7 linked regions of the Homo sapiens genome follow. The protein of the gene in region 7 purifies or fractionates together with the protein of the main gene of each other region. This does not show direct contact. Each region holds a gene or a part of one and is shown on either strand. Other genes may lie near its edges. The genes, in order: MKS1, PAAF1, PAWR, FAM162A, HDHD5, ZNF330 and SSH3.

Region 1 (2,158 bases), on a different chromosome or scaffold from region 7:
AATCAGCGCCACGTGCAAAGGCTTGGGAGCCAAGCCATGTGGTCTTGCACCCCAGGCAAGAAAAGTCAGCTGGAGGGTTTACAGCACTTTCTACTGTTTCCCAGCCCTCCCTCCCCTCCCTCACCATGACTAAGAGACCACTCGGTCCTAGCCTCCAGACACCCCACAATACTCCTCTGAGCCTGAGGCCAGGCAGCATGCTCTGCTTCTACCAATAAAGCACTGCTAAGGGCAGGGGCTGCTGTTTCTGTGTTGGGCTAGGGAAGACGTGGCCTCAGTTCCATGCTTTGCTCCAGATGTTTAAGAGAAGTGCTGTTAACACGCAAGCTGGCACAACCATCTAAGCCTCTCCTGGGGGCTGAATTAGGAGAGCCCAAAGAAACACTGTGGAGTAGGGAAAGGCAGAAAAGGGGAAGGGCAGACATGGTAGGGGCCCCGACATTAAGAACACCCTAGCCATACCAGCAACCTGAGCAGACAAACAGCCAACAGAACATCAGTCAAAATAAAAGGGGTTTATGTAACAAAAAACAAAAAAACAAACAAACAAAAAAACACAGTAAAAGATACCACCCAGCTAGCAGAAAGGACTCAGCACTGCCTTCAGCCTTCACTTACTCAGAAATAACTCATATCTCAACCTCAGCAAGCCCCAAGCAGTAGAATGAGGCTTCCCTGGAAAGAGGCTGAGACTCACAGGCTGGGGATTTAAGACCCTCTCACCGTCCACCTTCCTTCCTTCTTTGGTCTTGGAAGATGAAAGGCTCCATTTTTAAAGGGTGGAGAACAGCAGATCCCCTGCTACTGTGAGACAAGCCAGAAAAGTGAGTCAAGGCCAGACTCACTATGGGGTCACCCCAAACAGCTTCAGATCAAAAAGCCTGCCTTGCTGTGATGCCCATTGACAGTGGCTGCAAATATAAAGGGGGGGCCACAGGGTCTCTGGCTTTATTTCCACAGGGTAGGGAGAAGACCCTGCAGAAGGCTAGGCAGAGGGGCCAGCCGGGAATTTCCCAGCTTTTCTGGTTCTCAGCAGACCAACGTGGTCTCTAATCAGAAAGACGAAGAGGCAGGAGAGCACTGGCCTCAGATATCCCCCATCTTGTCCTCTTGCACTGTGGGCCAGGGCTGCTGTGAGCTAGGAGACCAGGGTTCCAGAGGGGCTCACTAGGTCCTGCGGGAGGCTTTCCCGGGCCTCCTGCATGCGGCGCCGGGCTCGACGGAAGGCCTCTGTAAGGAAAGGAGATATGCTATTTGGCTGCCATATGGTATTTCTCTCTGCACTGCAGAGAGAAACAGGCCCATGCTGACCTGGGGTGGCCAGCTGGGGGAGGGGACATACCTAGCACATTGTGAATGGAACTCTGCTGGCTGAACCCTTCCAGACGGTCCAACACACTCCGCATCCTTTTCTGAAGGGAGCTCGATTCCATGAAGGCCCTGCAGGGAGGCCAGCCACATGGTTACGGCTGTCTCCACCCCTCAGGGCTAAGGTGCCCTGAGGCAGAGGGCCAAGTCACTCACCTGGACTGCTGCAGACAGTGCAAGCGGAAGGTGACAGTGCCTGTGGTCTCTGTGCGGAGTCCAAAGCGGCTCAGGCGTTCCCCCTGTGGCATGCCATTGGGACAGCCTCAGGTTTCTGCTCTCTCTAGACACCCCCGCACCATGCTGGCCTCACCCCCATTCTTATTCCCATTCTTGGGAAGCGCAGTTCTGTTGGGGAAACCTTATTCCATCACCCAGACTCTATTACCTCAAGGCTAATACTGGGCTATTGGGCTCCCCCAACTAAACCAGGGAACATTCCAACCTCATTTGAGAAGCGGCGGTCTTATATGCTTACTGTGAATCCTCCCCACATCTGATTACTGAGGCCTTCAGTGATGGGGGAAAGAGCCAGTTATTCTGATGGGAACCAGGGGAAATCTCTAATTATACTATTTTCCAGAGACCTCCTACGATAGCAGTGTAGATATTGGAACCTGATTCAAAATGTGGTCATGACTTCCAGCTTAAGCCACAGGAAGGAAGGGGTTAATACTGAAGCAATGCACAACTAAGGGGTCTTGACCCAGATCCCACCTCCTACAGAAGGACAGGACCATAAGTTCTCAGCGTGAAGTCACTCCAAAGACAAAAGTCACCTTGAAGGATCCTG
Region 2 (3,500 bases), 6.6 Mb from region 7:
TGCTCTGTTGCCCAGGCTGGTCTCAAACTCCTGACTTCAAGCAGTCCTCTCTCCTTGGCTTCCCAAAATGCTGGGATTATAGGTATAAGCCACTGTGCCTGGCCTTTATACATCATTTTTTATTATTTTCTGCTTTAACTGAGGGAGAAGGCAATTCACCTCTTGGGAGAGTTGGGAATGCCGCTCACCTTTTGAGAAGTAAGTCATTTTAAAAATCATTTACAGGCTAGGCACAGTGGCCCATGCCTGTACCCAGCACTCTGGGAGTCCAAGGCAGGAGGATCACTTGAGCCCAGGAGTTTGAGACCAGCCTAGGCAACATAGTGAGACCTTGTCTCTACAAAAAAATAAACAAAATAGGCTGGTTGTAGTGGCTCACACCTGTAATCCCATCACTTTGGGAGGCTGGGGTGGGCAGATCAATTGAGGCCAGGAATTCAAGACCAGCCTGGCCAACATAATGAAACCCCATCTCTACTAAAAATATAAAAATCGGAGGGAAGGGATAGCATTAGGAGATGTACCTAATGTTAAATGACGAGTTAATGGGTGCAGCACACCAGCATGGCACATGTATACATATGTAACTAACCTGCACATTGTGCACGTGTACCCTAAAACTTAAAGTATAATAATAAAAAAAAATCTACTAAAAAAAATAAAAATAAAAAAAAAATCAGCTGGGCATGGTGGCACACGCCTGTAATCCCAGCTACTCCGGAGGCTAAGGCACAAGAATCGCTTGAACCCAGGAGGCAGAGGTTGCAGTGAGCCGAGGTTGCGCCACTGCACTCCAGCCTGTGTTACTGAGCAAGACTCTGTCTCAAAAAATAAAATTAGCTGGATGTGGTAGTGTGTGCCTGTAGTCCCAGCTGCTCGAGAGGCTGGGATGGAAGGATTGCTTGAGCCTAGGAGGTCAGGGCTGCAGTGAGCTGTGATTGTGCCATTGCATTCCAGGCTGGGTGACAGAGTGAGACCATGTCTCAAAAACAAACATAACTGTGCTCCTTTTCTATTTCTTATTCTCTTTTTATTTGAGCTTACTGAAAGATGATTCATCCATTTATTAATCACCTACTATATTTCAGCCAGTCTTCTGGATACTGAATAAAATAAATAAAACTGCCCTTATAGATCTTACATGCTAGAGATGTGGGACTAGACGTGATTTGCTGATGACTTGGATGTTAAGTATGAGAGAAAAGGAGGAGTTGGGATGATTCAAAAAATTTTGGCCTGAGAAGTAGGTGAATTGTGTTCCATTTACTAATTGGAGGAGGAGGAGTTGTATTGGGATGGGGCAGGGGAAATAAAAGTTTTCTTTGGACATGTTCAGTTTGAGGTTTCCAGTCTAGCCTAGGTGTTCACTGCCTACCAGCAAGCAATTGGATAGATACCACCTGTATCAGGACAGAACCTGAAGTATGTTGCTTACAAGTAAAGGATCCACTACTAAGTTAGCAGTCCTTTTATTCCGAGGAAGCAAAATGAAGAAGAAAAGTCTTAGAAAATGTTAGAGTTGATGGATATATCCCTATAGTTCTTCCCAAACTTATTTATTATGGTTTAATTGACATAGAACAAAGTAAAATGGAAAGTTGGATAATTAAAGCCAAAGTCCCTACTTTTTTCTTAATAACTTATGTGGGAATTATTGTTGCTGGGAATGTGTCTGGAATTGCATATCTTGGTCCATCATTTCTGGAGCATTTGCAGCTGGTTGTTTTTTAATAAAAGTGTACATGTATGCATGTGTATAAAAGATTTGTTATTCTGATAATGGCTTATGCATGAAGTGATTGCTGATACTGAAATTACAAAAGTGAGGCTGGGCGCGGTGGCTCACGCCTGTGATCCTAGCACTTTGGGAGGCCAAGGCAGAAGGATAGCTTGAGCCCAGGAGTTCAAGACCACCCTGGGCAACATAGGGGGACCCCATCTCTCCAAAAAAAAGTTAAAAAATTAGCTGGACATGCCAGCCCATGTTTGTAATCTCAGCTATTGGGAAGCTCAGGCAGGAGGATCACTTGTTCCTGAGAGGCTAAGGCTGTAGTGAGTTGTAATCATGCCCCTGCACTTCAGCCTGAGCAACAGAGTGAGACCCTGTCTTTAAAAAAAACACAAAAACTATAAAAGTGAGTTTGGAAAACAAAAAGTGAATCTGAAATTTCTCTATTCTTTATTCTGAAAGATCTATATCTGTATATTTTCTATAGCTATACCTATATATAGGTATATGTGGAAATATCTGAACTCTTTTTTTTTTTTTTTACGATGTTTCTTTTTTTCTTTTTTTCTTTTTTATTTATTTTTTTTTTTATTGATCATTCTTGGGTGTTTCTCGCAGAGGGGGATTTGGCAGGGTCACAGGACAATAGTGGAGAGAAGGTCAGCAGATAAACAAGTGAACAAAGGTCTCTGGTTTTCCTAGGCAGAGGACCCTGCGGCCTTCCGCAGTGTTTGTGTCCCTGGGTACTTGAGATTAGGGAGTGGTGATGACTCTTAAGGAGCATGCTGCCTTCAAGCATCTGTTTAACAAAGCACATCTTGCACCGCCCTTAATCCATTCAACCCTGAGTGGATACAGCACATGTTTCAGAGAGCACAGGGTTGGGGGTAAGGTCACCGATCAACAGGATCCCAAGGCAGAAGAATTTTTCTTAGTACGGAACAAAATGAAAAGTCTCCCATGTCTACCTCTTTCTACACAGACACGGCAACCATCCGATTCTCAATCTTTTCCCCACCTTTCCCCCCTTTCTATTCTACAAAACCGCCATTGTCCTCATGGCCCGTTCTCAATGAGCTGTTGGGTACACCTCCCAGACGGGGTGGTGGCCGGGCAGAGGGGCTCCTCACTTCCCAGTAGGCGCGGCCAGGCAGAGGCGCCCCTCACCTCCCGGACGGGGCGGCTGGCCGGACGGGGGGGCTGACCCCCCAGACCTCCCTCCCCGACGGGGCGGCTGGCCGGGCGGGGGGGCTGACCCCCCCACCTCCCTCCTGGACGGGGCGGCTGGCCGGGCAGAGGGGCTCCTCACTTCCCAGTAGGGGCGGCCGGGCAGAGGCGCCCCTCACCTCCCAGACGGGGCGGCTGGCCGGGCAGAGTGGCTCCTCACTTCCCAGTAGGGGCGGCCGGGCAGAGGCGCCCCTCACCTCCCGGACGGGGCGGCTGGCCGTGCGGGGGGCTGACCCCCCCACCTCCCTCCCGGACGGGGCGGCTGGCCGGGCGGGGGGCTGACCCCCCCCACCTCCCTCCCGGACGGGGCGGCTGGCCGTGTGGGGGGCTGACCCCCCCACTTCCCTCCCGGACGAGGTGGCTGCCAGGCGGAGACGCTCCTCACTTCCCAGACGGGGTGGCTGCTGGGCGGAGGGGCTCCTCACTTCTCAGACGGGGTGGCTGCTGGGCGGAGGGGCTCCTCACTTCTCAGACGGGGCGGTTGCCAGGCAGAGGGTCTCCTCACTTCTCAGACGGGGCGGCCGGGCAGAGACGCTCCTCACAT
Region 3 (3,500 bases), on a different chromosome or scaffold from region 7:
AGGAAAGGTTTATTCATTCTTTATCATTCATTCAATAAGTAAACTACGTCTACCTTAAACAAGGCATTCTGCAGAAGGTAACAAAGGATGCATTAAAGAAATGGAATTTATAATCTAGTAGGAAAGATAATACATATATATAGATAGATAGATAACTTAGTGATAAAGGCCCAGTTTCTAGCTTTATATTCTATGAGCATATAAAGGAAGAGTATTTTTACCTGGAGAGTTAGAAAAGACTATAAAAAATCTTGTAATTTAAAGAATGGCTACAATTTGGAATTGCAGATATATAAAAAAAGAGAATTACACATGTAACAGCATATTGGAAAAGCTTACAAGAGAAGGCTGCTAAAAAACAGAAGCAACACTAGAAATTATCTAACTCTACACTTTCTACATAAGAAAAACAAAATAGAAACAAATCTCTATCCATTATACACATCATGGGCTGGGTTATCCGTTCCTTGCAACTGAATACATTCCTAACCAATACACTGCCCTAAAGGTTTCTGCATGAGAACTCACACCCCCTCCAGACAAAAACAAATAAACAAACAAAAACAAAAACAAAAAAAACCACACACCTCTTTGTAGAGACACTAAGGAACTGATCACAGCAAAGTATAACAGTATGGCAGTGAAGACAATAGGAATTGGACAAAAAAAAAAAGTTGTGCAGAGAGAAGAAAACACTGAAGCCATTGTGCAAACCAAGAAGGTGCACTGGAATATTTGGAGATAGGAGGAACATACTGAAAGGGGTACCAAGCTTGATAAAGACAAGGTCTACAATGGAGGACATGGAAGAAAGCATCTGTCTGAGATGGAGTGTTTTTTATTATTTTTTATTATTATTATACTTTAAGTTGTAGGGTACATGTGCACAATGTGCAGGTTTGTTACACATGTATACATGTGCCATGTTGGTGTGCTGCACCCGTTAACTCGTCATTTACATTAGGTGTATCTCCTAACGCTATCCCTCCCCTCTCCCCCAACCCCACGACAGGTCCCAGAGTGTGATGTTCCTCACCCTGTGTCCAAGTGTTCTCATTGTTCAATTCCCACCTACGAGTGAGAATATGCAGTGATTGGTTTTCTGTCCTTGTGATAGTTTGCTCAGAATGATGGTTTCTAGCTGAGATGGAGTCTTACAACATTAGGATGATACAGAGAAGTCTGAGGACAGAAATGGAAAGGGCAAATGAAAGGAGCATGCAGGTTGAGATTTGGTGTCACCTGGCCCTTGTCATATCAACCTGCCAAGAGTGGGGCTTGGGGAAACAGCACAAGAAAATTATGATACTGTAGCTACTGTTATTGCTGAGTCTAAACTGTTCTTGACTCTAACTAACCCAGGAGACTAGTATCTTTTGCCAGCATACACAAGCTAACGTGTTAGCCAGCAAGTGGGGTATGATCTCAAAGCCATTACAGTTTTTGACAAAAGTGAGGACTCGAAAGGCATAGAGGGAACATAAATAATAGATAACCCAAGAAGTTTAGACTTCTCACTCCATAGCTTGGAATGATGTTACAATGCTATACAGTTCCTTGGGATAAGGAATGATCAAAATTCTTTTTGGGAAGAACCTGGAAATAGCAATGCAGAGAACAGGAACAAGACCAAAAGTGAAAAGACTAGTTAAGTGACTAGTTAAATGACATAGGCAATTGTATCCTATGAAAAATGATATATCATAGGTGGAAACAGAGTCAGTGAAAGAAATCTGGTATGGGACACCAAAGTGTTAAGAAATTAGTCCTTATTAGAAAAAAAAAATCTCTCTCAGGACTTTCAAAAACTTTCTCAAATCACTAGACAATATCTTGTTTAATGACAACATACCAGCAAAATTTAAAGTAAAATCAGACTCAAGACATTGATGTCCACTATTAACATAATTGTTAACATCATTCTGAAAGTGCTAGTTGATAGAACTAGGTAAGAAGAATAGGCGATTTTAACATTAGAAAGGAGGCAAAATTACCATCAGAGGAAATGATTTTGTAAAAAACAAAAACATTTTAGAATTATGAGTTAAGATTTTTTTCAGTAAATAAGCAAAAAATTTCCCAAAGTAACATCAATAGCCAGTTACAAAATTTTTAGTAACAACCATTAAAAAACTAAAAAACAGTACGTGCATGAAAAAAGCTATAAGACTTTACTGAAGAATACAAATTAAAACCTGCTCTTAAGAAAAATCTAGTATTGTGAAGGTGTCAACAGTCTCTTAACACATAAATTAAAATTCCAATCAAAATCATGAAGAAATTTATTTGGAAAGTAGTGGTGCATCATCTGGAAGAAAAAATACATAAGATATCAAAAAAATTACTTTTTTAAAAAAGAGGTATGACCAAACACTCTAGTTAATGTTAAAATGTATAAAACTACAATAACAAAAATACCTGATAGAGGTCCTAGAACAGAAAGAATAAAATAGCATAAAAGGCATTTTAAATCAAGGAGTTGCTTTAAAAGGGGGAGGAGAGGTCAATCATTTAATGAACAGTAGGAGAAGCAAAAGTATGAGATCTGGAAAAGAATAAAGAATGGTCTCATCTCTAGTCTTCTACTGTGTGAAAGCAATCATCACTTATTCTCCAGCATATGGACTCAAAAATCCCTCACCTAGGCTCCAACATCATTAGCTTAAAGTTGGAATTCTTAAATTATCATAGATTAATATTAACAGAAAGCAAAAGTTGAGGCAGGTAGCCACGCACTCCCAGAGCACTGGGATGCTATTTTATTTGTCTTTGTTTTCATTTTCTGAGACCCAGCCCCACAACACTAACTTTCCCTCCTCCTGCCCCCTCAACTAGACTCCCTTACCAGTATATTAAAAGAAAAAAGAAAGGAAGAAACAAAACACTCGGTAAATGTTTCATAAAACAATGAATGAGTTACCAAGATGAGACAAATCATCTTGGAGATGAACTGGAAGGTGAACTGTGATACCTGAAGTTAAAATTCTGAATGCTCTTTCCCATGGCAACACTGCTATCCACTGAACTGGGAACCTATTCATCACACATAGTATCCCTGTGGATACAGTATGTATCTAACGTTCCAGGCAGCTTTTAGTATAGGATTACTTGATGAATCACAACTTCTCTCCAAAATTCTGCTAGCAACCAGTGCAGTTCTTTTGATAACAAGCATCCTAGAAATTCTTAAGCAATCTTTTCTAACTGGGATAAATACATCTGGAGGAAGAAGTTGGCGGAAATCATGAGAAATAAGAGAATTCCTGTATCTGCCATACTTAAGAGAAGTGGATTCTCCTCATTCCTTTCTTCAGCTGCATAATAATTTTATTAAATAGATGTACCTACCATATTTTAATCAGAGCTTTATTGATGAACATTTGGGTTTTTTACACGCTCTAAGAAAAATGTGTTAGAAAGGCTTATATATATAGTTTCTGTATATATGCAATGGATTTCCTGGATAGATTCTTAGTATTAGGATTGCTGGCTCACAAGGT
Region 4 (3,500 bases), on a different chromosome or scaffold from region 7:
AGTACCATTGACAATGACTGTATTCCCCCAAATCCACTTAAGTACTCAACCTTAGGTGTAAAAGTATTTAATTGCAATATTCTGGAATTCAGGAAAGAGTGCTTCCTGTCACCAACTTCCTTAAACCTAAGGGAAGGGATCTTGGCTGGGATCATGGAACTTTTTCAGAGTTTGTAGATGATGAGTGCAGGTTCCTCCAACCCAGTTTCTCAACTCAGTACTATTGATATTTGGGGCTTGATAATGCTTTGTGGCAGGGGGGTGTCCTATTTGTTGGAAGATGTTTGGCAGCATCCCCGGCTTCTGCCCCCTACATGCCCGTAGCATTGCGGCAGTGCTGACAACCAGAAATGTCTCCAGACACTGCCAAATGTCCAAGGGGCACGAGCGGGGTGGGAATCTCCCCTGGTTGAGAACCAGTGCCCTAGCCTCATGTTAAAGACCCTGACTGGCTGGCATCTTGGCTAAAAAGAGATTCTGAGAAATAGATGTCATCTCCTCTGTGAGGCATCATCCTATTCAGGGACAGGGACTTCAGACAAAGCTCGTGGAAGTTCCCTGTCAGCAAGAAACTATTCCTGGATCTTCTGGTCTCTGGTTTCAAGTCATGATTGAAAAAGATCTGAGCTCATTCAGGATTTCTTTCCCAGGGAAATATGTAGTATTTACTTTCTGTTTACAACAGCTTTAATAGAGCTTTTCTGCTTCTGCCAGTCAAATTGATAGCACATTACTTTAACTAGAATTATTTCAGCAGGAAAGCCCTGGTTTTTCTTAGCTCAAGTCATGTATTCTTCTGGGAAATAAGAGAATACTGGAAATAACAGTGACATCAGGTTCTTGCCTATGCCCTAATTCTTCCTATACCAGCAGAAAATAAGCTGGTAGACACCCATGGCCTTAACAGATGCTGTATAGGCTTTGCTATAGAACACCTTCCTCAGTCTGCCTAATAGTTGGTTCCAAGATCCCCTCAGGCCCAAAATACTACCTCACGAATCACTCTGGAAGGGTCTTTTCTGGGCCTGGGCAGCCATTTGTCCTTGTGCTGGTAGTTCTGAACAGGCACTGCTTAACTTGCCCATTCCTATTACTCCCTATGGAATGGATTACTTTTCATGAGGATCATGGCACTTCAAATCCCATAAAATACCGTCAACATGGGAAGTCAGTTTGTGGTTAGTGGAATCTCAGGTGCTCCTAACTGACCAATTTGACAGTCCTTAGCAGTTGTCTTGGGTTCCTGCCAGCCTGCAGGCCCAGCTTAAGTGCCTGGAGAACCCCGTCCACATGCTGCCTCACAGGTCCCAGCTCCTACATCACATTGTACATGGCTTCATCATCTTCCTCCTTCCACCTGCAACATCCCAGACTCTTTGCCTCCTTCCAAGCATTTTTAAAGTACTCCCCTCCCCAATTTTAAAAGTAATATATGTTAAATATCTCAGGGGAAAGAAAGCACTTCAATCCCATCATCTAGAGATAATCACTTCCTATTTACACATCTACTGAGAAGGCCATAAGTTAATCCTGGGCCCCATAAGGGCTCCACATCCCCTGCCTTGAGGTTCTGCCAGACACCGAGGTAACAGAATCGTGACCACCAGGTGTGGCAATGCATGCCTATAGCCCCGGCTGCTCAGGAGGCTGAGGCAGGAGGATCGCTTCAGTCTAAGATTTTGAGTCAGCAACATGGTGAGACCCCATCTCTTTAAATAAAGTAAATTAAAAATAGAACCATGACTCACTGCCTACTTGCAAAATCACCAAGGTAGATTGGCCTTTAGACTCTTCTATATTAAGCCTCTTAGGTTTCACACAAGAATGATGAACCAACCATCAACTTTTTTTTAAGGCACATGGGTCTGTATTCAGTAGATAGGTTAGAAGAGCTGCACTTTGGCACTTGCCAAAGACCACAATATCAAGTTCACTGTCACTCAATTTTAGCAAAACATTTGTTTAAAAAGATAAATATTGAGGAGCATTGCTTAAAGGATCTTCCTACTATTTTAGATATTCTCAAATCTATTCTGGGTTCAAGACAGAGAGCAAAAAGCTGGGTATATGGAGCACATTGGTTAACTTTCTCCAATGTTTGATCATTCTGAATTGTGCTTTGTGTTGAAACATATGAAGCTTATTGTAGTATCTGTTGTCGAGATGTTTTCAGACGATGACTACATCACATAATGTCTTCTTAAGAACCTCAGGGAGAAATGACTGTTTCACTTCTAGCATTTATAGGCTGCTTGGAAACCTGAGAGCCAAAATTGGGGTCCACCATAGCAAGTGTAGATTAATATGCCTTGCCCATTTTTTTTTTTTGGCTTTGTTCTTGACTTCTCTTTTTGTTTTCTTCTTTTGTACTTAATTGTGTGCTATCCTGTATTTTATACATAAATGAGTTACGAAAAATGCCTCATCCTCCCCAAAGTCCTATGAGATCTCTAGGCCCTTTTTAAAGAGATCTCTAGGTCTCCCTATTTATATTTATAGACACTACTACATTTTGAATTTATACACAGCCTTTTATCCTGAGCAACTTCAGAAAGGGAAAAGTTAATAACTTTCTCTCATGATCTCATTGTATTACTAGGTTGGAGATGCTTGATGCTGCAAAGAACAAGATGCGAGTGAAGATCAGCTATCTAATGATTGCCCTGACGGTGGTAGGATGCATCTTCATGGTTATTGAGGGCAAGAAGGTGAGAAGGGGTTTCTTCTCTATCCAGTATGTATGTTCTCCACCAAGAACCTAGAGTAAATCAGGGATTGACCCTTGTATTTACCCTCTGAGAAGAGGAGGCTACTTTCTACATTACATGAGAAAAGATAAGCAAAAAAATAAGACATATTGGGAACAAGCCTGGAATATCATCCTTGGGGATAGATAGCAAATCCTAACTTTGGCGTGGTGAAGAAGGACTAGATTCATTTTGTGTAATGTAAATTTAAAAAGTGTTTCTGATGACAGGTGTCATAATGTAAATTAAGAAATAGGACACTGGCATATTTAATCACCCACTGCATATTTCCAGAGTGCTCTTGGTACCCAAGTGTATTTACCCTCACCATAACTGCCTTCAGCATGGTGAGCTTTCTTAGCGGGGTTCTTTATTTGAAGCTCAGCCAGACAGGGCCATGTGTCTAAGGACCACAGCTCCTAAGCAGTACATAGGAATACAAGTCCAGAAATCTTTAGCACAGATTATAATTAATAGCTATCACTAATTGAACACTCACTGCATTCCAGGTACTTTTCTAGCTGGTATCTCATCTGAACCTCACAAAAACACTGTAAGATAAGTATTATTAGGACCTGATTTATAGATGAGGAAAACTATAGCTTAGAAAGCTTTAGTAACTTGCCCAAGGCCACATATCTCCTTAATGACGAGCCACAGTGTGAACCTAGACCCAATTCAGGTAATAGGAAAATTCCTCCCATTTATTGAGTGCTTATTATGTAACAGGCACTGTTAAGCTCACTTAATCAC
Region 5 (2,629 bases), on a different chromosome or scaffold from region 7:
TCAGGTGGGACATTCAAATGTTATGAGGACATGGGAAAGTTTTTTCTTTTTCTTCTTGTTGTTTTGTAGAGACGGGCTCTCACTATGTTGCCCAGGCTGGTCTCAAACTCCTGAGCTCAAGCAATCCTACCACCTTGGCCTCCCAAAGTGCTGGAATTACAGACACAAGCCACCGCACGCAGCCATGGGATGGTTTTTTTAAAAATTAATTTTAGTGTGGGATAGTTTTTGATTGCACAGGATTGTCCTGAGTATGTAGCGTCCCTGGCCCCCTCCCACAACCTTCACTTGCTAGGTTCTAGTCATTGTGACAACTAAAATTGCCTCTGATTTGTAAAGCACCTCAGCAGGGGCGGTGCTGCCCCATGGAGAATCACTGGTCTGGTGCAGTTCACCGGCCCTGTACCTTAGTGTCAGCAGTGTTCTTTGCCTAGTGCTTACTGTGTGTCTAGTCCTGGGCTGTTTACCGATGATGTAGCTCATTTTTATCCTCACAATAGCTAAGTGCTGTTGCTGTTATGTAGTTGCAGTTGAGGAAACTGAGGCTTAGAGAAGAGAAGTTACTTGGCCACAGTCATACAGGAGAATCGGTGGAGTCCAGGTTGGGTTTCAAGTCTCTATCACTCCACACCCCCTGTCCTGGCTGTTAGGTTCTGCCAGTCCCTGGGGCTCAGAGAGAAGCGACTGAGGGAACAGGAGCCCTTGCTAAGTCATGTGAGGGAGAATGTGGTGGCAGAGTCCCAGCCAGCAAGGAGAAGTAGCCCTGAGACATGCTGCTTTTGTTTTGTAACCTCTTCTGTGAAGCACTGGTGGACTGAAGTCAGAATGGGAGCCCTCAGGAATCTCCTTCCTGGGCCCTGGGCCTTGTGCACCCAGGGTGGATGGGTAAGGGGCTCTACTGGGCTTGTTGGGGAGCTGTGCCCCTGCCCAGCTGGGTGCACCATGGGTGGAGGGCTTGTGGATGGGTAGCCCTAGCTGGCATCCTGAGGGCCTGCCGCCTGCCATCTGCCCTGCAGCCCTCACCTGCGCCTCTGTTCTTTAAAGGGGTGCTCCTCCTAGGGGAGCCGGTCCGCTGGGAGACCAGCCTGCAGCTGATCATGGATGTCCTCCTCAGCAATGGGAGCCCTGGGGCTGGCCTGGCAACACCCCCCTACCCCCACCTCCCCGTCCTAGCCAGCAACATGGATCTCCTGTGGATGGCTGAAGCCAAGATGCCCAGGTGAGGACACAAAGCTCCCAGCCTTGGCCTGGTGGTCTATTCCTGGCTGCTGCCTGGGCAGTCCTGCAGGCAGTTCCCATCCGTCCTGACACCCCAGGTGCCGGGACCTCACTTAGGTAGGCCCTGTTGTTGCTGCAGTAACCTGGCCTTTGGAAGGGCTTTCAAGGACCACTCCACATATTAGTTACTAAACCTAAACTACAGATTATGGAGTCTGAGGATGTATTGAGAGGATGTTTCACACGTGACCCCTGCCCCCTGTAATCTTTACAGAACATGCTCTTGGTGTCTGGTGGATCCCAAACCGTGGGCACTTTTTGTACCGTATCTGTGCACATTATTCAGTTGCTCTTCCTTCCTTGGCTCCATCCTGTAGCATTGGTTCTTTGACTTTCTGGTTTCCTTTTACCCTTCAGACATAAGGCAGGAGGAAGCAAGGATTTGTCGTTTTTTGTTTGTTTTGTTTTTTTTGCGGGGACAGTGTCTCACTCTCTCATCCAGGCTGGAGTGCAGTGGTGCAGTCATAGCTCACTGCAGCCTTGAACTCCTGGCCTCAAGTGACCCCCGTGCCTCAGCCTCCAAAAGTGCCGGGATTACAGGCGTGCTCCATCATGCCGGCCAAGGATTGTTCTGATAGTCGTATAGACCAGAGAACTGAGACCCAGCAGATAAGTGGCTTTCTCAGGGGCATGCAGGTGCCTATACTCCCTGCTCAGCTGTGTTGGTGTCATGTGTCCTGTCTTATTCTGGGGCTAGCACAGATAGAGGCAGCCCTTTTTTGGCCTCAGGGTGCTTACTTGAAGGCCAGCTGACAGCTGCTGTGTACTGTTCGGTTGCTGTTATCTGCATGGCCAGTCTCTTGAGTCTCAGCCTGCTGTTGACCCCCAGTCGACAGTGCTCGTCAGCAGAGGGTGGGCACGGCCCAGTACTGCCTCAGGGCCCGTCTCAGTAGTCCCAGAGAGACGGGGTATGGTATGCTCTTGTCACTTTTAAAGTGTATGTCTGTGGCTCGAGGCTTGGCATTGTCTCTGAAGTATTATTCCTAGAGGCGGGTATGCTGACACTAGATCAGTGGGCTTGGTTGGTTATGTCTCTGTGAACTGAAAAGCAAGGGGCAGATTTCAATTTACAAACCAGATTTTAGATGAACTTTTCTAATTAAAAGTAGAATTATTTACATAAATGACACTGAAAGATGTGGTGGCTCATGCTTGTAATCCCAACACTTCGGGAGGCCGAGGTGGGTGGATCACCTGAGGTCAGTTCAAGATCAGCCTGGCCAACATGGCAAAACCCCGTCTCTACTAAAAATATAAAAATTAGCCGGGCATGGTGGCAGGTGCCTGTAATCCCAGCTACTCGGAGGCTGAGGCAGGAGAATCACTTGAACCCAGGGGGTGGAGGTTGCAG
Region 6 (3,500 bases), on a different chromosome or scaffold from region 7:
CATGGAGAAGAGAGAATATAAGACATATTTGGAGAATGGCTGACCATTAGTGACTTGAGTCTAAAAAGAATAGGCCAAGAAGGTTTGGAAAGTGATTAGGGGCCAGATTGTGGAGAGCTTTTAAAACCATGTTTAGGAATCTGGATTTTCTGTGAACTTTATTATTTTGTATTCTCTTTGGAACGGTGCCTTAGATAAATGCATTATTTTAAGGGTCACCCACTTCATTTGGAATAATATGTGCTTAACGTTTCATAAGGCTTAGAATGTACTTAACTATCAAAAGGATAGTTCTTGTGTTCATTCTGTGGTATTTTATTCCTTACAAACAATTGAAAAAGAAACTACCAATGTATTTAGCCTCCTTTGTGATAATGCCACTTCTTCAGGGAATCATATACCCGGAGTATCACTCTCGCATACCTTTGTTATTTTAAGCATGGGTAGGTGCTTGTATACATGGGTGGAGTTGGGGCTTTGGTGTAGTGTCACTTAAATTTTAACCTGAAAAGCAGGTTATTCTTTGTAATACAAGTAAATTTGCAGTTTTCAGTCAGCAGAAAAATTAATGTGATATTTTTATATGTTACAGGAATGTGACAAGTGTCAGAGGTAAATTTTATTTCTTTTTCTATCTACCTTTAATAAAATTGTCCCTCTGACTTTTTATCTGACATTGACCATAATTTAAAATTTTATTTTACATGACAAGGCGGCAGAAGAATAGAGCATTTTGCTACTTTTGTAATTCTGTACAGAAGTTACCAATTTGTGCACAGTGTGGTAAGTTTGTAATAATTAAGGACATATGCTTTTTATCAACTGGTAGTTCAACAATTTGAACTTGGGTGGGTTTGTTGCTATTGGTTACAGTGCTTACAATTGTTGATAATATTATGCCTTACCATTAACAAAATAACAAAACATGTTATTTTGCCTACCAAAAAACTATCAAGCCTTGGTTTTGTCTCTTTGATGTAATGCTGGAAAATAATTAAGGTACAATTTAGATACAGGTTACCAATAAGTGTTTTTAAACAGTGAAAGATCAGATTTCAGACATAACATTTGGTGATCCTGAACTTTTAGTTATACTACCTTAGTCTTGTCAGTATCTGTTTGTTTACTTATCTACATTTTGATTCCTGCTGATATTACCTGCAGTGTGTTAGACCATTGGGAATAATTTTATTCCACATTTACCTGGTACTTATTTTGTGATCAGTAGTTTTTGTGTTTGATGCTTACCATATGATTCATGAGTTTCCTCACATGTATTCCCAGGTGATTTAAATAGAGTTCTTAAGTCATGTGCCCGGTTCTTAAGTATAGGTGGAGACTTGTACCCCAAAATGATTATACAAAATAAAACTAAATGTTAGCAAGATGGGTGTTTCCCAAATAGTCTTCCACAGACTTCCTGAAATATTAATGGATATTTCTTGAAAAATATATATCGATATACATTTGAGAAATACTGCATGCATCCTCCTTTCATTCTCATCTGGGAGATTTCTATTATATATTTATATGTTAGAAGTTCTGAAGACTTGCAACAAAGAAACCCAATTAACTTTATTACTCTAGATTTACATCCCCCCCCAACTTTTGATGAACAAGTATTGCTTTTATTTATGAGATAATAATAATAATTTCAGGTAGAACAATTTGGGGTATGCTCATTTAAGTGTGTTTATATGTAATAATATTCCAGAAAGTTAGTAGTGTTTAGGGCTATATCCCTGAATATTTCTAATGTAGTTCTAGCTTTCAAAGAAGATCTTTTCAATTCCACAATTAATGAAAAAGAGAAAACTGGCCTATATGGAACACTCATATGGTAGTTTTCATAGCCTTGTTTTGCAAAAAGTAATGAATGTAGAGTGAGGAAACAGAGTTTGTGGAAGATTAATAGGTAAGTTCTTGCTAGGACTTACCCCTATTTTCAGTGTCTCTGGGCTTAAATTTTGTAGTGTTGTTAGATGGATACATTTCTCATTTACTGATTCTTAGTGTTGGACATGGAACAGTTGGGTAGCTGCTGCCTCTCATTTCCAGTTTCTCTTCCCATTTCCTACTAACTTTGTTCCTTAGGAAATCAAGATAACGGAAAATTGTTTCTTTTGTGTTCCATTTTGTGGAGTCTCAGATGGATGATTAATGTCATCATTAACTCTCACATAATATCTGATAAGCAAATTTCCTGATAGTGTTTTGAGTTGGTAATTTAATTTGCTTCTAGATCAGAGGTTTAGTGGCTGTGTGGTGATTTGTAGCTGTATCACCGTATTGTTTATTGTGCTTATTTGGGCACTATTTCAAAATTTTGTTGGGAAAATGTTTAACTGGGGGCTTCGTTGTAAATTTTTATGTTTGGATAAAATTACATTAACTCGATAAGTTACATAATCATTATTTGGTTTGGTTTGAGGTATTATTCTGTGGAAAGAAATAACTTCAAACCACAGTTTTTATTGTGAATTATAAAATGTAAAATTTGTTATAAAAAGCATTCCTTTAAAAATTGTTTTGAATAATCTGAAGATTGATAAGTTTTTAAACTGTTAAAATGATCATTAGATTACAAAGCATAACCTGCAATTTCTGATTTAGTACAAATTAGCATATATATTGTATAGTTCATTTTACAGATTTATTAGTAAATGTATAATCTGAAAAGTCTGATTCGAGTAATGAAGTCTCAGTTATATCCATTTTCTCTTTCTAGTTATGTAAGCAGTAAATACTGATTCAATTTCATTAGTTTTTAAATTATTTCCTCAGGAACTTGGGCTGGATAAAAGGAGGAATTCGTGAGTACTGGTATGTATTCCTTTGCAAGACTAACAGTGCAAATGTTTTTCTTCATTAGGGAAAACAAAGTGCATGATGAAGTCTTCAGACTGTGTCATAAAGCATGCTGGTGTATACAGTACTGGCCTTGCAATGGTGGTAAGCTTCTTATTATCTCTTAGACTAGTACGTTTTCAAGGATAAGAAAATGTCATTCTGATCAGTGGTTATTTTTTTCTAAATATCATTGCTTTGTCCCTTGTTTCAATCAATCTGTAGTTATCTGGATTATGAGTGGCATGCTTTTTGTATGATTTTCCCTTAGTACCCACTTGTTTCTAGCTGCTTCTTTCTTTCTTATTAGGGAACATACAAGGCATGGAAACTTTTCATGCTGATCTAAACAGAATTTCATTTCTCAGTGGTACCTTTTTTTTTTTAAATTTTATTATTATTATTATACTTTAAGTTTTAGGGTACATGTGCACAACATGCAGGTTTGTTACATATGTATACATGTGCCATGTTGGTGTGGTGCACCCATTAACTCGTCATTTAGCATTAGGTATATCTCCTAATGCTATCCCTCCCCCATCCCCCCACCCCACAACAGTCCCCGGTTTGTGGTGTGTGATGTTCCCCTTCCTGTGTCCATGTGTTCTCATTGTTCAGTTCCCACCTATGAGTGAGAACATGCGGTGTTTGGT
Region 7 (3,281 bases):
GTTCGGGGCTACAGTGAGCTGTGATGGTGCCACTGTACTCCAGCCTGGGCGACAGAGTGAGACCCTATCTCAAAACAAAAACAAAAACAACCTCCTTCCTCAGCAGAAACAAAAAATGTGCAACCTATGTCAGTCCCATTCCCCGCTTTTTTCCACACAGTCCCTCTTTACCCACTGATTTTACATCTGGGAAGAGGGGGGATGGGAGAGGAAGGAGCAGGGTCAGCACTGTTCTGGGCCTGGGGTGTCTAGGTGGGGAGCAGGGTCCTTGGGGCCACTGTGACCCTGGGTTCCTCATCTCCCCCCAGGCAGCCCAGCTGGAGGCACCCCGGCCTCCCCGGCTCCGCTACCTGCTGGTAGTTTCTACACGAGAAGGAGAAGGTCTGAGCCAGGATGAGACGGTCCTCCTGGGCGTGGATTTCCCTGACAGCAGGTTCGAGCAGGGAGAGGAAAGGAGGGGCAAAGAGGTGAGGGACAGGGGGGACAATGGCTTTCCCTCTGTCCCCTGCCAGCTCCCCCAGCTGCACCCTGGGCCTGGTCTTGCCCCTCTGGAGTGACACCCAGGTGTACTTAGATGGAGACGGGTAAGCAATGGCAACTGGAGGTGGGGGCTGGAGGGTGGAATAACTGAGTGTGACGGATGTGACGGGGCCTGGGCACCAGGGTACAGTAGAACTTTAGGCTGGGACTCTGGGGCCTGCTCCCAGCTCCACGTCAGATTCACCGTGATCCTGAGCAAGGCACCTGACTCCTGGGTCTCGGCTTCCCGTATCCAGCAAAAGGATGGGTTCTCTGTCGCAGAGCCTGGAGTCTGGCCTCACCTGTGCCTGGTCTCCTGCAGGGGCTTCAGCGTGACGTCTGGTGGGCAAAGCCGGATCTTCAAGCCCATCTCCATCCAGACCATGTGGTAAGGACAGAGACTGCCTGGACTCAGGCCAGCCTCTCCTTCGAAGGAGGCTGCAGGGCCTGGGGAAGGGCAGCAAGGGAACAGTGTGACCCAGCCTCTCCTCCTGTCTCAGGGCCACACTCCAGGTATTGCACCAAGCATGTGAGGCAGCTCTAGGCAGCGGCCTTGTACCGGGTGGCAGTGCCCTCACCTGGGCCAGCCACTACCAGGAGAGACTGAACTCCGAACAGAGCTGCCTCAATGAGTGGACGGCTATGGCCGACCTGGAGTCTCTGCGGCCTCCCAGCGCCGAGCCTGGCGGGTCAGTGTGTGGAGGGGAGGGACTGGGTGGAGGGGAAGGCAGGATAATGCAGTGGGGGGCATGGTGGAGAGGGGAAAGGGCCCCTTGACTGAGGGGCTCTGCTCCCAGGTCCTCAGAACAGGAGCAGATGGAGCAGGCGATCCGTGCTGAGCTGTGGAAAGTGTTGGATGTCAGTGACCTGGAGAGTGTCACTTCCAAAGAGGTGGGCAGGGGGCCCGGGGACTGAGTCCCCTCTAGCAGGGGCTGCAAGCTTGCCTTTCCTGGGAGCCCTCCCCACCTTGCCTGTCTCCAGTCCTGAGCCATTCCTGGATGCCTTGGCCTTGGCCCTAATCCATCTAGATGGGATAGGGTGCTGTCCTCAGAGGTCCCAGAGGGAAGGTGGCAGGTTGGGCACTAGGAGAGCCCCAGCCTCTCTTGCCCTGGGCTCTGCCTGCAGATCCGCCAGGCTCTGGAGCTGCGCCTGGGGCTCCCCCTCCAGCAGTACCGTGACTTCATCGACAACCAGATGCTGCTGCTGGTGGCACAGCGGGACCGAGCCTCCCGCATCTTCCCCCACCTCTACCTGGTGAGCTTCAGCCAGGCCTGGGCCATGGGGACCGCTGGCAGCTGTGAGGGCGGCAGGCCAGGAGCAGAGGCTGGAGGAGAGGAGAAATGTGCTGTTCCCTCTCTCCCAGGGCTCAGAGTGGAACGCAGCAAACCTGGAGGAGCTGCAGAGGAACAGGTAGGGCTATGAGCCCCTCGGGCCACCCACCCCATCTTCCCTTCTCCTGGCCTCCCCGCATTGGGTGGTAGCCAGCTTCAAAAACCCCTGGACCACCCTCAGCAGCTGCTAGCTCTGCTTCTAACTCTGTCCTGGGGCTGTTGCCCTGGTGTGGGCTCCCAGGTGGGGACAGGAGACCTGCTGGCCAGCCCCCGCCCACTCTCCTCCCCCATCCACACTGTGAAACAAGGACAGAAACAAAGGGCCTCAGCCACGCCAAGACGAGAAGCAGCAGCGCATACTGCTGTAACTGCCTTGGACAAGCAGAAAAAGGCTCCTCTTGAATGCGCCTGTGGGCCCAGCTACTTGGGAGGCTGAGGCAGGAGGATCGCTTGAGCCCTGGAGATTGAGGCCGCAGTGAGCCGTGATCACGCCACTGCACTCCAGCCTGGGCAACAGAGAGAGACCCTGTCTCTAAAAAATAAGAAAAAAGAAAGAGAGAAAAAGCCTTTTCTCCACCTTGCCCTGTCTCAGGGAAGAAGGAACTGCCCTTCTCCCCGTGGGGACCTGGCTGCCTGCTCTGACAGGTACCTGTCATCTGCCCACCATGGGCTTCTGGGACCTGCTGTAGCCCCTGCCACCCACTGCTGCAGACCCACCCACTCTCAGCTTAGCTCAAAAGCTGTTCTCTAACTCATTTCTGAGAATAACTGAAGGGCTGGAGTTGCAGTTGGCCCAGCTGTCTGGACCAGATGGGGAAACAAGCCCAGCAGGGCAAGATGATTGGTCTAAGGTCGCAGCCAGGTGACAGCTGGGTCACTTCTCCTCCCACTGTCACTGCTGCCTCCATCTGACTTGAAACTCAGAGCTAAAGCGAGGCCCAGGGGCTGCCAGGTCCGATTGCCAGTGGGCCTGGTACCTCTGCCCACATCAGCCTGGCCTTGGGCCCTCTGGGACAGGGTCACCCACATCTTGAACATGGCCCGGGAGATTGACAACTTCTACCCTGAGCGCTTCACCTACCACAATGTGCGCCTCTGGGATGAGGAGTCGGCCCAGCTGCTGCCGCACTGGAAGGAGACGCACCGCTTCATTGAGGCTGCAAGGTCGGTCTCCTGGCTTTGCTGCCTGCCCCACTGTGGCTTCAAGCGGCCTCCGGTGCCCTCCTCCTGCCCACTCTGCCATCAGCTGTGCCATTCCTTCCAGCCCTCAGTGTCCTTCCCTCCTTCTCTACTCTCAGTTGGTTGTGAGCCCTTCACCTGCCCTCCCCTGCAGGAGGCGGGATCCTTCATGGTGAGGGGAGGGTGCTGAACCTGGCCTGCTTCCACAGAGCACAGGGCACCCACGTGCTGGTCCACTGCAAGATGGGCGTC

Evidence for each region.
Region 1: the proteins of SSH3 (region 7) and MKS1 purify together in Homo sapiens (affinity purification with mass spectrometry; 2 studies listed by BioGRID and IntAct, with this or other methods). This does not show direct contact.
Region 2: the proteins of SSH3 (region 7) and PAAF1 fractionate together in Homo sapiens (co-fractionation; one large-scale study listed by BioGRID). This does not show direct contact.
Region 3: the proteins of SSH3 (region 7) and PAWR fractionate together in Homo sapiens (co-fractionation; one large-scale study listed by BioGRID). This does not show direct contact.
Region 4: the proteins of SSH3 (region 7) and FAM162A purify together in Homo sapiens (affinity purification with mass spectrometry; one large-scale study listed by BioGRID and IntAct). This does not show direct contact.
Region 5: the proteins of SSH3 (region 7) and HDHD5 purify together in Homo sapiens (affinity purification with mass spectrometry, with the first as the bait; one large-scale study listed by BioGRID). This does not show direct contact.
Region 6: the proteins of SSH3 (region 7) and ZNF330 purify together in Homo sapiens (affinity purification with mass spectrometry; one large-scale study listed by BioGRID and IntAct). This does not show direct contact.

What each region holds. Positions count from the first base shown.
Region 1 is NC_000017.11:58,204,941-58,207,098, forward strand, and holds the end of MKS1 (tectonic-like complex member MKS1), read right to left. Parts: coding exon 2,145-2,158; intron 1,608-2,144; coding exon 1,525-1,607; intron 1,441-1,524; coding exon 1,343-1,440; intron 1,231-1,342; coding exon 1,139-1,230; coding exon of another isoform or gene 1,050-1,138; 3' UTR 501-1,049; downstream 1-500. UniProt on the Homo sapiens protein: Component of the tectonic-like complex, a complex localized at the transition zone of primary cilia and acting as a barrier that prevents diffusion of transmembrane proteins between the cilia and plasma membranes.
Region 2 is NC_000011.10:73,893,999-73,897,498, forward strand, and holds part of PAAF1 (proteasomal ATPase-associated factor 1), read left to right. Parts: intron 1-3,500. UniProt on the Homo sapiens protein: Inhibits proteasome 26S assembly and proteolytic activity by impairing the association of the 19S regulatory complex with the 20S core.
Region 3 is NC_000012.12:79,621,465-79,624,964, forward strand, and holds part of PAWR (PRKC apoptosis WT1 regulator protein), read right to left. Parts: intron 1-3,500. UniProt on the Homo sapiens protein: Pro-apoptotic protein capable of selectively inducing apoptosis in cancer cells, sensitizing the cells to diverse apoptotic stimuli and causing regression of tumors in animal models.
Region 4 is NC_000003.12:122,404,682-122,408,181, forward strand, and holds part of FAM162A (protein FAM162A), read left to right. Parts: intron 1-2,599; coding exon 2,600-2,708; intron 2,709-3,500. UniProt on the Homo sapiens protein: Proposed to be involved in regulation of apoptosis; the exact mechanism may differ between cell types/tissues.
Region 5 is NC_000022.11:17,139,649-17,142,277, reverse strand, and holds part of HDHD5 (haloacid dehalogenase-like hydrolase domain-containing 5 isoform 2 precursor), read left to right. Parts: intron 1-69; coding exon of another isoform or gene 70-209; exon of another isoform or gene 210-881; coding exon of another isoform or gene 882-885; intron 886-1,044; coding exon 1,045-1,219; intron 1,220-2,629.
Region 6 is NC_000004.12:141,223,895-141,227,394, forward strand, and holds part of ZNF330 (zinc finger protein 330), read left to right. Parts: intron 1-592; coding exon 593-612; intron 613-712; coding exon 713-783; intron 784-2,872; coding exon 2,873-2,952; intron 2,953-3,500.
Region 7 is NC_000011.10:67,306,530-67,309,810, forward strand, and holds part of SSH3 (protein phosphatase Slingshot homolog 3), read left to right. Parts: intron 1-308; coding exon 309-433; intron 434-512; coding exon 513-584; intron 585-841; coding exon 842-907; intron 908-1,019; coding exon 1,020-1,208; intron 1,209-1,316; coding exon 1,317-1,410; intron 1,411-1,644; coding exon 1,645-1,773; intron 1,774-1,882; coding exon 1,883-1,929; intron 1,930-2,867; coding exon 2,868-3,014; intron 3,015-3,238; coding exon 3,239-3,281. UniProt on the Homo sapiens protein: Protein phosphatase which may play a role in the regulation of actin filament dynamics. Can dephosphorylate and activate the actin binding/depolymerizing factor cofilin, which subsequently binds to actin filaments and stimulates their disassembly.